2 separate regions of the Homo sapiens genome follow, and region 1 is linked to region 2. The links come from fine-mapping of genetic effects on gene expression. Tissue or cell type: left ventricle. Region 2 holds a variant in brackets; the other region holds the start of a gene. All regions are shown on one strand. Distances are from middle to middle.

Region 1 (8,100 bases), 360 kb after region 2:
GCAGGTGGGCCAGGAGAGTTCATCATCCTTCTCCACAAACCCTTCCCTGCGCCCCCAGACCAACACTTGCCCTCCTGGGGGATGGCACTGCATCTACGAGGCAAGCAGGATGAGAGCACTGCAGTCCCCCGACTCCTACCTATTCAACACGTACCTGAGTGCCCAGAAGTTCATCTCCCCCTTCATGCCAAGCTACCCCCAGATCCCCAATGGAAGCAGCTTCAGCCCCCGGGCCCATGGGTAGGAGGGGAAGGATGGGAAGTAGTGAGCCAAGGAGAGGGCAGGGGCAAGTGGGTCTGTCCCAGGCATAGGGAGGCTTGAGGGGCAAGGCATTTGCTCCCTTGTTCATTCAACAGAGGACCCAGCAATGCTGGCTCAGCCCCAGGCCTGCTCTCGTGGCAGGGAGACTCCACAATAGGTCTGTTCTCTGTCCCCAGAGCCATACGAAGCTGGCAATTCAGTCCACAGTGGGAACTGGCAATGGTGAGGGTGGGCGGCCAAGGGGCGACCCGAGGAGCAGGGCCAGGCGCCTGGGACCCAGCCAGGGAAATCTCCCTCCCTGCACCAGCCGTGTCCTCTCCTGTCCTGTCCTCAGAGCTCTCCCGTGTGTTCCCACCAGCCTTGTCCCATATCTGAGACTGTCCCCACCCCCACATGCCCAGGGCTCTGGGGGCCACCTTCTTCAAGCTGCCGCTGCGCGTGCCAATGAAGACCACAGAGTGCTGGCGGTAGGTGTAGGCGGCCACGCTGGCCATGCCGTCGGTGCTGTCGGCCAGCAGGGGCAGCCCCTCGATCACATGCAGGCCTCCCAGAGGCTGGTTCAACACCAGCCCACAGAAGTTGCCGTTGATCTGCATGGGCTGGTGAAACAGAGGAGGAACCCGTGAGAGTCAAAGCTCCCAGGCGCAAGATGGAGGCCGGCAGTTCCTGTGTCCCAGAAGAGAGCGGGATCTAGAACCCGGTCCCCTCCAGCCAGGACTGACTGCTCGCCCTAGGGTGCTCCAGGAAATTGGTGGCTGCGGAGGGAGACAGAGGAGGGACAGCAGGGAGCGAGGAGCGAAGCCTGGGCCCACAAGACTCTTGTTGGCTCAAGACAAGGGGCAACCGGGAGACGGAGCAAGGAGGAACGAGCTGGGAACGGAAGGAAGCAGAAGTGGGGCACTGGGCAGCCCAGAGAGAGGCAAGGAGAGGGCAGGGACCCCTGGGAGGGAGAAACAGGTGGGAGGGCAAAGGTGCCACTCCCAGGGCCATGGCAAAGCCTGGGACAGGATGACTGGCCGTGAGCCCACGCTGGGCATGGTAGACCTGGGACAGGGCAGAGGACCAGTGTGGGGTGATGAGGGGCTCACGGTGTTGATGCAGGGCAGCTCCTTGTTCAGCAGCCAGGGCAGAGCCAGAGTGCCCTCCCCACGATAGCAGGACTGGATGCGGCGCCGGATGTGGGCATTGATGTTGCTGAGGGTGAAGAGGCAGAGGATGGTCTGCCGGGGTGGGCTGGCCCGGTTCTTCTGGCCCTGAGAGAAGATGGTGAAGAGGACGTCCTCATCAGCCGGCACGCCCAGGGCCTGGGCCAGCAGCAGGCCAGGCTTGGCCAGGTGGGCGCTCTGCACCAAGCGGTACTCCACGCCGCGCCAGGAGCAGCCGATGGGGAATTCCACGTATGAGTAGAACTCTGAGTCTCCCGCGCACATGCGCACGATCTTGGACGTGAAAAATTTCTCGCCCGCTGTGTCCAACAGCGTCTGCTGGGTGTCCAGCTGCAGCGTCAGGAAGTACACGAAGGAGGCGCTGACGAAGCCGTAGATGTAGTAGATGTCAAAGGCAGGGTACAAGGACAGCGTGTCTGAGGGGATCTTGATCTGGGAGGACACAAACTCATCCTGGTACACCTGGGGAGCAGGGGGAGGAGACAGCATCCGGTGAGGCCCTGTGCCAACATCACGGGCCACCGCCAGCTTCCCTCTGCATCCCCCTCCCGCCTGGATGATCACAGAGGCCCAGGCCAGAAAGGCTGCAGAGGGCAGGGTGACCAGCCTCCCTGCACACAGGGGACCCCCGCAACCTGGGTTCAGGCTGTCATCCCACCCTCCGCAACCTGTCTGCATCCCAGACACTGAGGAGCCGAAAGTCCCCTCTCAGAAAGAACAGGGCTCTTCTGGGAGGCAGAGCCAGGACTGGGTGGAGGAAGAAGAGAAGGAAGGCTCACGCACGAGACTGAACATGTCCGCGCTGTCTTCATCACTGATGAGCTTGCGGGAGCTCAAGGTGGGGAAGTACTCCGACTTGCCGTCGACAGCAGTGCCCACAAACAGCTTGCTGGGCCCCTGGCCCTGCTCCACAATGACACCAGCCATGGAGTCGGGCTCCTGGGCCCCCGACAGGTAGTGCTCCTTGCGGTGGTGCGGCTCACCCAGCTTGAAGAGGTCGTCCAGACGCAGGAACTGGCAGATGCCCTGCCAGATGCTGCCGCAGGCCACCAGGCGGCGGGCCGCATAGTCTATGAGCAGCAGCTTGTTGATGTTGTCCACGGGGGCCAGGCGGTGGGCACACACGCGCATGCTGGGGGGCGGGTAGCAGCGAGCGTTGTCCTCGACGGGCCCCGTGACATGGGCCCGCAGCTCAGTCAGGTTGGGGGCCAGCTTAAAGACTCGGTTCACTGCGCCCACGAACACCTCCCCAGTCACCCGGTGCACAGCCAGGTGGGTAAGCGTGGTGTCTGTCACCACGAAGGCACGGAAGGGCCTGTTGCCCAGGGCCCCCCCCACGGCAAGGAAGAGCAGCAGGAGGAGGCAGACAGAGGGCATGGCCGGCAGCCGCGCCTGGGGACAGGCCTAGGGAGAGACGGTGTGTGGGAGTCAGAGGCCTCGAGCCACAGAGGGCTGGGCCATTCACCCACCACCCCGCCAAAGCCCCAGATGGCCACCGTGACAGGGAGAGAGGAGGGGCCTCCGCCAGGGCGCATGAGTGAGCAGCCAGCGAGGGCAGGCTTGGGGGCCATCAATCGTCCCTCAGCCCCCATGCTGGAAAGGAGCCAGGAGGCCTCGCCTCAGCTGGGCCACACCCAAGGGGGTAGCAGAGCAGATGCTGGAACTGGGACCCCAGATGCCACATCTCAGAGCCCGGGGCAACCAACAGCAAAGAACAGCAAGCCCCAGGCCTCTGGGCTGCCCCCAACGCCTGAGCTGAGGGGAGAGGGAGGCAGGCACAGAATAATCGCAAGCTGGGGGAGAGGGGCAGGGCCAGGAACACCACCTGGAGTGGCACTGCCACCAGGAGCCCTGGGACAGAGGTCTGGGGAATGGAGGCCTGATGCAGGATCCAGCACCACCATGTCCCCTGCAGGGGCCCCAGCTGCCTCCCCGACAAGGGCCTCAGCTGGCCATCCAGGAGCCCGCTGTCTGGCCTCCCCGATGCAACACAAAGCCAAGTCGCGCCTGCCCCTCAGCCACGCACCCAGACACACATCAGTCAAGCTCTGCTCAGCCACAGCCTGCATGGCTCCCCCTCCAGACCCAGGGGTTCACTGGAGAAGGGAATGTACAGGGGGCCCTACCTGCCCTTTGGAGTCCCAGGAGCCTTACAAGAGGAGGAGCAATGTCCCCAAATACAGTCAAGGCCTTGGAGAGACAGGGCAGGAGCCACAGGGACAGTGCTGGGACTGGCACTTAGTCCCCAGGCCACACCCAGTCAGCCCCAGGCTGCTAAGACAGCAGAGCAGTGTCGTGGCAGCCAACAGGGCAGGGCTCAGCGCTACCCTCTCAGTGCCAGAGCTCCCGGGGGAGATAGGAGGTACCCAGCTTGAGGGCGGGAGGCGGGGGGGGAGCGGGGGGTGGTGCAGGGAACCAAACCAAGGAGGCACAGGAGAGAGAAAGGAAAAATAAGGCATTTGCCAGGAACAAGCAGCGGGCCCAGCTTGAAACTGCAAAGTTTCAGCTCAGATTGATCACCTCTCCAGGGCTCTTTTGTCAGCTGGACCCCTCATGCAACAGCCGGAGAAGAAAGGAAGGCCAAAGAAAAGAGAGGCCACATCCTGTCTTCACCTCCTCTACACCCCGGGAACACAAGCCTAGGAACAGGCTGGGGACAGGTCGGGAGGGAGACCTGGGGAGGCAGTTTCAGGCCCAGCCCCCACCTGTAAGTGGCAACCTCGGGCATCACAGGTACAGCTGGGCCAGCAGAGAGCCTGAGGAAGGGGCAGCCCCACGCAGAGACGGGGGTCCAGCGGCCGCCCCCCACACCCCCCACCGTGCTGCTGGTCCGGTTTGCCCGGGCCCCATCAGGGCACCCCTCGGCGGACTCGCGGAGCCCTTAGCGGGAGGGAAGTACAGCGTTGATCCTCCGAGGGGCCGCTCCCCTGCGACAAAGGGTCCTCTTTGGGCAGGGTGTTGGTCTTGGGTTGGCGTCCCCACCATGCGGGGCACAAGGAGTCGGGCAGGCCGGCGCCGACGGGCAGGGATAGGGCCTGACCCCCACAGGCCGAGCCGGACCCCCGGGCTGCCGGAGCCCCGGGCCCCGAGCTGTTTGGCCCCGCACGGACGGCGACGATGACGGCCACCTACCTGTCCCTCCGCTGGCTCCGGGTGGCCGCCCTCTGGCCACGTGGACGCGCCCCCGAGCCCCACCGCGGCCCCGCTCGCACGTCCCCACGGCCTCGCCCCGCGCCCCGGGCCCCAAGCGCGCAGCCGCCGCCGCCGCCGCCCACACACTGGGCTGGCCCGGGGGCCGCCGGAGCCTTTTAAACCCGGACCGTACCACCGCGCGGGGCGGGGGCGTCCGGGGACGCCCGGCCGAGGGGGACGCGGCGGCAGGGGACGCAGGCGGGGCCGCTGCTCCCCGGGGCCAGGGACCTCGCGCGCAGCCCTGACCCCCGCGACCTGAAGGGGGACCCGCCCGGCCAGCCGACCCCCTTCGCTCGATGGCCGCGTCCGCGGCGCGCGCCTCCCCCGCGCCCCGGCTCCCCGCCCGCCGCCTCGGGCGACCCCGGAACCCGCGCGCGCCCGCGCCACACCCCCTCGGGCCTGGGGCGCGCGTCCGCCTCGCCCCACCCTGGCGCTCGGAGACGCGCCCGGGGTCACCTGCCACCGGGGCGCGGCCTCGCTGGTCCCGGCCTCTCAGGTGCACCCCCGCCGAGGAGTCGCGTCCCCAGCTCAAGACACGCCCCCGACGGTCTCTAACCCGGAGGGCCTGCGGGACAGCCGTCCAAACCAGCCCCTTCCCCGGCGACCCTGAACCGAGGGCTTTCTTCCTTCCCTTGCTTTCTTTTTCCTTTTCTTTTTTTGTTTTCTTTTGACACAGGGTCTCGCTCTGTCACCCGGGCTGGAGTGCAGTGGTGAGATCATAGCTCACTGCAGCCTCGACCGCCCCAGGCTCAAACGATGCTCCCGCCTCAGCCTCCCAAAGTGCTGGGACTACAGGTGTGAGCCACCGCGCCCCGTTAAGGTTTTCTTTTTCATTTCCCTGATGACTAATGGTGTTCAGCATCTTTTCATGTGCTTGCTGGCCTTTTGTATATGATCTCTGAAGAAATGTCTATTCAAGTCATTTGCCCATTTTTATTAAACACATATATGGAGAGATAGATAGATAGACAGATTTTTCCCCCCAAGTTGAGGTCGCGCTCTATCACCCAGGCTGCAGTGTAGCGGCATTGGATCATGGCTCACTGCAGCCTCGACTTCCTGGGCTCAAGGGATCCTCCTGCCTCAGCCTCCCAGGTAGCTGGGACCACAGGCAAGTGCCACCACGCCTGGCTAACTTTTCCTATTCTTGTAGAGAGAGACAGGGTCTTGCTACACTGCCCAGGCTAGTCTTGAACTCCTGGGCTTAAGTAATCCTCCTGCCTCAGCCTTCCAAAGTACTGGCATATGCTGGGTGCAGTGACTCAAGCCTGTAATCCCAGCATTTTGGAAGGCTGAAGTGAGCGGATCACCTGAGGTCAGGAGTTCGAGACCAGCCTGGCCAACATGGCAAAACCCCATCTCTACAAAAAATACAAAAATTAGCCGGACATGGTGTCATATGCCTGTAGTCCCAGCTACTCAGGAGGCTGAAGCAGGAGAATTTTTTTTTTTTTTTTTTTTTTTTTTAGACAAAGTCTTGCTCTGTCGCCAAGGCTGGAGTGCAGTGGTGTGACCTCGGCTCACTGCAAGCTCCGCCTCCCGGGTTCACGCCATTCTCCTGTCTCAGCCTCCCAAGTAGCTGGGACTACAGGCACTCGCCACCACGCCCGGCTAATTTTTTTGTATTTTTGGTAGAGACGAGGTTTCACCGTGTTAGCCAGGATGGTCTCGATCTCCTGACCTTGTGATCCGCCCATCTCGGCCTCCCAAAGTGCTGGGATTACAGGCGTGAGCCACCGCGCCCGGCCGAGAATCTCTTGAACCTGGGAGGGGGAGGTTGCAGTGAGCCAAGATCGTGCCATTGCACTCCAGCCTGGGAGATAGAGCAAGACTCTGTCTAAAAAAAAAAAAGCACTGAGATTATAGGCATGAGCCACCATGCCTGGCCCTCAACTGACTTTAAGTAAAAGAGATCACCCTTGATAATGTGTGTGGGCCTCATCCATTTAGTTGGATGGCTTTAAGAGCAAAACCCGAGGTTTCCTGGAGAAGCAGAAATTCTGCCTCAAGACTGTAACACAGGCCAGGCGCGGTGGCTCATGTCTGTCATCCCAGCACTTTGGGAGGCCAAGGCAGGCGGATCGCCTGAGGTCAGGAGTTCGAGACCAGCCTGACCAACGTGATGAAACCCCGTCTCTACTAAAAATACAAAAATTAGTTGGGCATGGTGGCGGGCATCTGTAATCCCAGCTACTCGGGAAGCTGAGGCAGGAGAATCGCTTGAACCCAGGAGGCAGTGGTTGCAGTGAGCTGATATCATGCCACTGCACTCCAGCCTGGGCGACAAGAGTGAGACTCCATCTCAACAACAACAACAACAAGACTGTAACACAGAAATTCTCCGAGTTTCCAGCCCGTCAGTCTGTCCTACAAATTTCACACCAACTTGTCAGCCCCGACAATTGGGTGAACCAAATCCTTAAAATAAACTGTGTGTGTGTGTGTCCTGTTGGTTCTGTTTCTCTGGAGAACCATGACTAATACAGATGTCTTTCCATTTATTTAGGTCTTCTTGAATTTCTTTCAATGATGTTTTGTACTTTTCAGTGTACAAATCTCATGCTTCTTTTAAAAAAATCTATTAATAAGTATTTTATTCTTTTTTGACACTGTTATAAATGGAATTATTTTCTTAATTTCATTTTGGATTGTGTATAGAAATACAATTGATTGGCCAGGTGTGGTGGCTCATGCCTGCAATTCAAGCACTTTGGGAGGCAGAGGTGGGCGGATCACTTGAGATCAGGAATTCGAGACCAGCCTGGCCAAGATGACAAAACCCCGTCTCTACTAAAAATACGAAAATTGGCCAGGCATGGTGGCGGGCACCTGTAATCCCAGTTACTTGGGAGGCTGAGGAGGGGGGCAATCGCTTGAACCCAAGAGGCAGAGGTTGCAGTGAGCCAAGATCATGCCATTGCACTCCAGCCTAGGCAACAGAGAGCAAGACTCTATCTCAAAAAACTTTTAAAAATTGATTTTTGTATAATGATCTTTTTGGAGACAATGTCTCACTTTGTCACCCAGGCTGGAGTGCAGTGGTATGAACACCACTCACTGCAGCCTCGTCTTCCCAGGCTCAAGCAATCTTCCCACCTCAGCCTCCCAAGTAGCTAGGACTACAGGTGCATGCCACCACGCCAGGCTAATTTTTGAATTTTTTGTAGAGACAGGGTTTCACCGTGTTGCCCAGGCTGGTCTCCACCTCCTGGGCTCAAGTGATCCGCCCACCTAAGCCTCCCAAGTAGCTGGGACTACAGGCGTGTGCCACCACACCCAGCTAATCTTTGTATTTGCTATACACACAGAGTCTCACTATGTTGCCCAGCTGGTCTCGAACTCCTGGGCTCAAACAATCCACCTGCCTAGGCCTCCCAAAGTGCTGGGATTACAGGCGTGAGCCACTGTGCCTGGCCTTAGTCCCATCTTTGTCATCTCATCCATTGGCTTGACCAGACGAGCAGGTGTTACCCTTTGATTC
Region 2 (8,100 bases):
ACGAGCAAAAGGAATGTATGACATTTCCAGGCCTAGCCATAAAATGTCTTGCACATGTGTCCATGCTGCCTCTCTCTTTCACATATGCAGGGCTTCAACTGAAGGACTCTAAGATGGTGAAACCACATGATGGAAGGAGCTGGGATCCCTGAATCACCTTGTGGAGGAGAACTTAACTTACATCAGAATGAGGCATGAGTGAAGGATCAATTTTATTGTGTTAAGCTACTAAGATCTCAGGATTGTTTGTTATAGCAGCTGAATATCCCTGACTAGTATACCTAGCAACCAACCAAGGGAGCTGGAACTCAAATCAAGATATGTCTGGTTCCACATCTTTGAAGTCATTGTTACTCAAACTGTGGTCAGCAGGTCAGCTGCATCAAAAGCATCTGAAGTATTGGTTAATTAATATTCAGAGGGACTTCTGTGAAGATAAAGCAGGCAATATGCCAAGAAAAAGAATTCCTTCTTTGAAGTAGATGGCTTAACCTGAATAGAAAAGCCAATAAGCCCTTGCTGGGAACAAGCAAGCTAACTAGTGAAAGAAACATTTCTGGACCCAGTTGGGCACCAAGTAGAAGCCTAACAGGTAAATTGGAATGAATAAGCATATAGGCAAGCCATATTTTTAAGAAGCAGTTTGTTGAGGCAAGAAGGTAAAGTCTGAAACTTCTTTATGCTCAGACCTACATCTGCTGCTCTCACTTGACTGGAAAGAAGTAAAGGCTACAAGAGCTCACACATACCTCAGCATCATGAAGAGAATTTGTTAGTCCAAAGTATAGCTCTGGACTTGTGCACATCTCCTGTAAATAACTGGTCCAGTAAGAGTTTACCTCATTCAACAGGAAACAGCACCAGATCTATGCAGAGTTACTATATGGAAAACACAAGAAACGTATAAGCAAGAAATGGCAGATGAGGAATACTCACTAGAAAAATATCTCAGGGCAGATAAAAACCATGTACTAACATATTGCCATAAATTCAAAACATTTGATACAAAATATAAAATAATAGCTAAGGTCGGGCATGGTGGCACATGCCTGTAATCCCAGCATTTTCAGAGGCTGAGGCAGGAGGATTGCTTAAGGCCAGGAGTTTGAGACCAGCCTAGGAACATAGCAAGACCTCATCTCAATAATAATAATAGTAAATGCTATATGCAGAAATACAACAGGGCAGATAAGGTATACCAAAACAAAAGAAGAAGATGAAAATTAGTTGGAAAATCCCAAGAAAAATGTAAAAGACAAAAAGTAAAACTATCACCAAAATGAGGAAGCATGAAGAAAAAGAGACATTGGTGCAAAATATGAAAGAAAATATGGAAAATAGGATTATATAGGCAAGCAGTATTAAGTAAACAGTTTGGTGAAAGTAAGATTAGAGAAGAAATGGTAGATGCAGGAGGCACAGAATGATTTCTTCGATGAAGAGAACCAAAATAATCCAACAGAAGAAAAAGTTATAATTTTTTCTTTTTCTTTTTTCTTTTTTTTTTATTGTTACTATACTTTAAGTTTTAGGGTACATGTGCACAACGTGCAGGTTTGTTACATATGTATACATGTGCCATGTTGGTGTGCTGCACCCATTAACTGGTCATTTAGCATTAGGTATATCTCCTAATGCTATCCCTCCCCCCTCCCTCCACCCCACAACAGTCCCCAGAGTGTGATGTTCCCCTTCCTGTGTCCATGTGTTCTCATTGTTCAATTCCCAGCTATGAGTGAGAACATGTGGTGTTTGGTTTTTTGTCCTTGCGATAGTTTGCTGAGAATGATGGTTTCCAGCTTCATCCATGTCCCTACAAAGGACATGAACTCATCCTTTTTTATGGCTGCATAGTATTCCATGGTGTATATGTGCCACATTTTCTTAATCCAGTCTATCATTGATGGACATTTGGGTTGGTTCCAAGTCTTTGCTATTGTGAATAGTGCCGCAATAAACATACGTGTGCATGTGTCTTTATAGCAGCATGATTTATAATCATTTGGGTATATACCCAGTAATGGGATGGCTGGGTCAAATGGTATTTCTAGTTCTAGATCCCTGAGGAATCGCCACACCGATTTCCACAATGGTTGAACTAGTTTACAGTCCCACCAACAGTGTAAAAGTGTTCCTATTTCTCCACATCCTCTCCAGCACCTGTTGTTTCCTGACTTTTTTTTTTTTTTTTTGAGGTGAAGTCTCAGTCTGTCACCCAGGCTGGAGTGCAGTGGCACCATCTCGGCTCACTGCAACCTCTGCTTCCCGGGTTGAATCGATTCTCCTGCCTCAGCCTCCTGAGTAGCTGGGATTACAGGCACGCGTCACCACGCCCAGCCAGCTGATTTTTGTATTTTTTGTAGAGACGGGGTTTCACCATGTTGGTCAGGCTGGTCTTGAACTCCTGATCTCGTGATCCACCCGCCTCGGCCTCCCAAAGTGCTGGGATTACAGGCGTGAGTCACCGCGCCCAGCCAAGTTATAATTTTTTAAGTGTTGCAGAAATTAAAGAAGACTGGAGTCTGTGGTCATAAAGGACACATCAAGTCCCAGGAAAAATTGGGACTTGCTACTGGGCACATAGTAGACTCTCAGTAATACTTGTTGATTTTTAATTAAGACATTTCACAGTGAGGATTGCACACAGCCTCTCTGTGCCTCATTCTTCCTCCTCTATACTCACCTGTGTATACCATTAGCTGCAGCTGTAATGAAGGCTTAAGCTAGCTGCTTATTACCTGAGGCACATGGAAGCTTGGCTAATCTCCCAGCATTCCAGAAGCAGAGGTGGAAATCAGGAGGACTGACAGGCTCTAACAAGTCCACAAAGATATGTGTACAAGGAATTTTTAGTATGGTTTACGATAGTGAAGAAATGGAAACTTAAATGTCCATCAGTCTGGGGCTAGCTAAAGAAAGTATTGCACATTCATACACTGAGTACTAAGGATAATTACACAGAAACATATTCATGAAATATCATTGAGTGGAAAAAGCAGATTATAACAGAAGATATATAGTTTAGTCTAATTTCTTATTAAAAACTAATTGTATAGGGGGAAAGCCTCTAAGAACCTAACCCAAGT[A/G]TTAGACATTGGTTATCTCCTTGTGGTAGTGAATAGGTTGTTTTATTACTATTGGCGGTGGTGTTAACTTTTGTTTTTCCTGTCTAATTGCACTTTCTGATCTTTCTTTTTTTTCTTTTTCTTTTTTTTTTTTTTTTTTTTTGAGACGGAGTCTCGCTCTGTCGCCCAGGCTGGAGTGCAGTGGCGTGATCTCGGCTCACTGCAAGCTCCGCCTCCGGGTTCACGCCATTCTCCTGCCTCAGCCTCCCGAGTAGCTGGGACTACAGGCGCCCGCCACCACGCCAGGCTAATTTTTTGTATTTTTAGTAGAGACGGGGTTTCACCCTGTTAGCCAGAATGGTCTCGATCTCCTGACCTCGTGATCTGCCTGCCTCGGCCTCCCAAAGTGCTGGAATTACAGGTGTGAGCCACCGCGCCCGGCCCACTTTCTGATCTTTCTACAATGAGCTGTATTGTTTGATCAGTTCATTTTTAAAAAGATACTTTAAAAACAAAAGAAGAAAAACTACCTAACCATACTTATACCACTACCTCCAAGCCCCACTGTACTGGAAACACATTCTTATTCTGCTTTTTCATCAAAGTATTTTGTTTGTATGGAATTATTTGGTTCATATTAAGAGAAAAACTGGTGTCAAATCCAATCTTTGAAAAGGTTATATAATTATATAGCAACTCTGTGCAGAGCATTCACCATTTTATCTTCCTTTCCCAGCATTCTTGTAGTTGATCCAGTCCACTGAAGAACTAGAAGATTCAACAGGGCAAGTGTGGTCTCTCCAGTTGGACTCCAAAAGAGTGGGGCATTTGCTATCTGCTTAAAATGAGGAAGTATCTATCAGTTGAAATTAAATCGTCTTCCAACTTGAATCATCCTTTGCCTTCATTTTCTCCTTCAAAAGTTGCAATTTTAAAATGTGAATATCCTTATTACTGTTTTGGTTATAATAGTAATACATATTTATTGCAAAAAAAATTTGAGAAATACAGAGAAAAGAGTAAGTTTCCATAATTCTAGCAACCAGAAATAAACATCATTAACATCTTGATGTACCTCCCTTCAATTTTTTTCTATATATGTATTACAAGTTTTCCAAAGTCTGTTCTGTGAAACAATAGTTCTGTTTTAATAAAAGTCACAAAACAGTGAGGGCCCTGTGGTCAGTTATGTTTGGGAAATGCTGGATTAAACAAATTTAAAGCTATCTTTCTTTGCTCAAGGACTTCTAAGAACTTTTAACAGGCTAATACTAATCTCCACAAGGGAGTATAATATATAGCATTTCCCAAACTAATTTAAACATGAGCTTTTTTTTTTAATGTAGTGGAGATGACATAAGTCATTTAATGACCTCTCCATATAATAATTATTTAAGGTATTTCTATTTATTGACTATTATAAATGTAATACAGGTAATATTATTAAAAATTATTGGCTGGGTGCGGTGGCTCATGCCTGTAATCCCAACATTTTGGGAGGCCGAGGCGGGTGGATCACCTGAGGTCAGGAGTTCGAGACCAGCCTGGCCAACATGGTGAAACCCCATCTCTACTAAAAATGCAAAAATTAGCTGGCCATGGTGGTGAGCCCCTGTGATCCCAGCTACCCAGGAGGCTGAGGTGGGAGACTTGCTAGAATCCGGGAGGTGGAGGCTGCAGTGAGCTGAGATAGTGCCATTGCACTCCAGCCTGGGTGATAGAGCAAGACCCCGTCACAAAAAAATATATATTAATTTGCTTTTCCTTTTTGCTGTTCTGAGTTTGAAATCATTCATTCAACAGACACTTGTTGATCACCTACTGTGAGCCAGACACTGAACAGGTAACAAACAGACGGGGTCTTGCTCTGTCACCCAGGCTGGAGTGCAATGGTGCTATCTAACCCCAGCTCTTGTGGAGCCACCATGCTAATGTGAAGATTCAGAGAAACCAGATTAAGCGAGGGGCAGAGTAGATATTGTGAGCCATTGAAAGGATTTAGGCTCTTCCTGGGGGCCATAGTGGGGGCCAACAGAAGGTTTAGATCGGAGGAGGGATGTGAAGGGAGAGCAGATGGGATTTGATTAGGATTTGGATGAGATGAGAGAGAGAGTGAGGCTTCAAGCATGCCTCCGAGGTTTTTGGCCCAAGCAGATGAAAGAATGGGGTTGTCATTTATTGAGCTAGAGAAAACTGCAGGAGGTTAGGAATTTACTACAGAGAAAATGCAAAGAGAAAGAAAAACTGAAGTGAAATTCTAATTGATGCTGAGGTGAGATCCAGTGGGCTGCCACATGGCCTGTCATGTGGCCTGCTGTGGCAAGCCAAGGTGAACTCAGAAAAGACTTGGAGTTTTGCTTAAGTCCAATGTTTCCTTTTTGACTGTCTTTCTGGATGATGCGTCCACTGTTGAGAATGGGGTGTTGAAGTCCCCGTGTTGCTGTCAATTTCTCCCTTGTCTTCTGTAAATATTTGCTTTATATATTTAGCTGCTCCAATGTTGGGTACATACATATATATATTTACAGTTGTTATGTCTTCTTGATGGATTGACCCCATGAAAGGAAAATAAATCGCCCCCAAATGACCAAGCGAAAGGGAAAAGTCAAGCTGGGAAGTGCATTGGGCAAACCTGCCTCCTATTCTATTCCTAAATAAGATAACTACAAAGATTTTTTTTTAAAGCTACATACCTTCCTCACAATTTGCCCATGAAGAAATTCCTTGTAAACAAAGGACAGGCAGAACTCAAAGTCATCCCTCTGCTCACATGAGACAAATGCATATCTGATTGCTTCCTTTGCCCTATTGTTTCACAAAGTCAGACTAAAGCATAAGTGACTCTTCCTGCTCTCACATGTAAATTGTGTATTCAGTGAAAGGCTAATCAGCAACTCAAAAGAATGCAACCATTTTTCTCTTATCTAACTATGACCTGGAAGCCCCCTCCCCACTTCAAGTTGTCCCACCTTTCTGGACCAAACCATTGCATATCTTACATATATTGATTGATGTCTCATGTCTCCCTAAAATGTATAAAACCAAGCCTTGGGCACATGGCATCAGGACCTCCTAAGGCTGTGTCATGGGCATGTCCTTAACCTTGGCAAAATAAACTTTCTAAATTCACTGAGACCTGTCTGAGATATTTGAGGTACACATTTGGTGACCACAAAGAGACTCTGAGTGGAGGTGGCCCTGACCTTTGACAAATCTCCTATCAGTACTTGGTACCAACTCGAGCTATCTTTATGGCTCAAACCAATAGAACAATTTGCTGAGGCCTGGGAGCTCCCCTCCCTCCAGAGAATCCCTCATCTCCCAAAATTTGGTTGAGATCTAAAGTTTATTTTGCTGTACAACTCCTTTTCTGGAGTTTTGCTTGCTTCCAACAAGGAAGGCAAGTTTTCCTGCTTCCATGACAATGAAAGGCAAATAACTGCATTCTGGAATTTGAGCTCACTTCCAACAGGGAAGGTGAGTTTGAGTTTTTTCCTACTTCTGGGATGGTAGAGAGCAGTCTTCAGCCTGAGACCCACTCCTAGGTAAGTAGCTGAATTGGAGTTTTCTCTTGGCTAAAGTTATGATTCACAGTCGGCTGGTCTTAATTTCTCCTTACCATTAGAGGACTCAGTAATCATATTGTTGGGGTTCTTTTGTTGTTTGTTCCAGTCTTTCTCCCATCAGATTTGGCCAATTCTACCTGACTTGGTCAAATTTGAATGAGAATTCCAAATAGTGAGTAACAAGGTATCTCTGAATTGGCTAAAATTCCTCGCAGCTGCAAAAGAGAAAAAAATGACCAAACATGCAGTTGGTTTGTGTGTTTGCTCCCTGTCTTAAAAAAATAACTGTTCTTTCGTTTACTTTTCTTCCACCCTATTCCTCCTTCTCCCCTCGCCATCTTTGGTACCAAGAAGAATATAAAGAAGGCATCTAATGACTCTAACCCTTTAAAGAACTCAGGACAAAGGCACCGTTCACTCCTTTGGGGCTGTTCTGTTTTCTTTGTGGAGTTTCAAGAGTCATGGGCAGATTCTTCTTAGGTGTAAAGCTCTGCTCTCCTGTATTGCATTACCTGACCTCTTTGGCTTCTGGGGGTGAAGTGGCTACATTGTCTGGGGTATACACCCTGGGGTTCGTTGTCATGCACCAGGAAAATTTAGGACATGGACACACACAAGTCTAGGAGCAGAGGTTTAATGAGCAGAAGAGAAGAGAAAGAGAAGCAGCTTTCTCTATAGAGAAAGGGGTCTCCCGGTGGAAAGGACCAGCGGGTGGTGGATGCGCCAAATTTTAGTCAGGTTTGAGGAGGTGGTGTCTGATTTACATAGGGCTGACAGATTGGTTCGATCAGGTATGACGTTTACATAGTGCGGGGGAAGGCTGGTGGCCCCAGCTGAATATTATTATGCAAATGGACTTTCCAGTTGATTGGAGCCATCTTGCCTCTCTATGTCTGCAGCTGAACTTTACAGGCTGCTCTTTGTTAGAAAATCATTTGAGGCTGCTTTTCATTAAAAAGAAAAACTTTACTGAGGATCCCCATACCCTTACTGTCTGCCTAAGTGATTTCTTCTTAAGTCCTGTATCAGGGGTACCAGAGATTACCTTGTCCTGTGAGAGGATTTGACCTTGGCATGTGTAATAGCAGACAAGAGCTACAGTTAAAGGTGGCCGAGGACAGTTTACAGAAAGTGGTCTTGGCTGGGCTTTTTTCCTCCTAGGAGGTTGTTTAGGATCTCAATTCTAATTCAGAGGTGCATTTTAAAGAGTCTTCTCCATTGCCTTTCCTGCCCAAATTAATCTCCATTGGCTTGTCTGCATATTTGCATGAGGAACTGCACTGTCACTTTCATAGATAAATGAGAGACTGAGTTTCCTCAACCCCAAAGAGAAAGGGCATTTTGCTCCTCCCAGTCAAAAGGTGCTCCTGGGTGACTGGAGGCCAAGTGGGAGTGTCTGGGGGTTGCCTCCATGTGATGTGCAGTAGCCCTACAGGGAATTGCCAACAAAATTAGTTTTAAAAGCCTCG

Evidence for each region. PIP is the estimated chance that this variant, and not a neighbour inherited with it, causes the effect.
Region 1: PLXNA3 starts here. The variant in region 2 is fine-mapped to the expression of PLXNA3 in left ventricle (GTEx, PIP 0.95).

What each region holds. Positions count from the first base shown.
Region 1 is chrX:154,454,888-154,462,987 of GRCh38, reverse strand. PLXNA3 (plexin A3) reads right to left here and starts at 4,707. Exons shown (of 33, transcript NM_017514.5): 1 at 4,560-4,707; 2 at 2,211-2,831; 3 at 1,350-1,889; 4 at 678-860. The coding sequence starts at 2,804. RefSeq lists enhancers at 3,252-3,804, 5,230-5,299 and silencers at 4,290-4,359, 4,600-4,839, 4,970-5,139.
Region 2 is chrX:154,819,484-154,827,583 of GRCh38, reverse strand. It overlaps SMIM9 (small integral membrane protein 9), which reads left to right. Exons shown (of 5, transcript NM_001162936.4): 5 at 3,802-4,236. The coding sequence ends at 3,829. Among named protein-coding and RNA genes, the nearest start is that of SMIM9, 11 kb to the left of the region's middle. The variant A/G (reference allele first, on the strand shown) is at 3,087.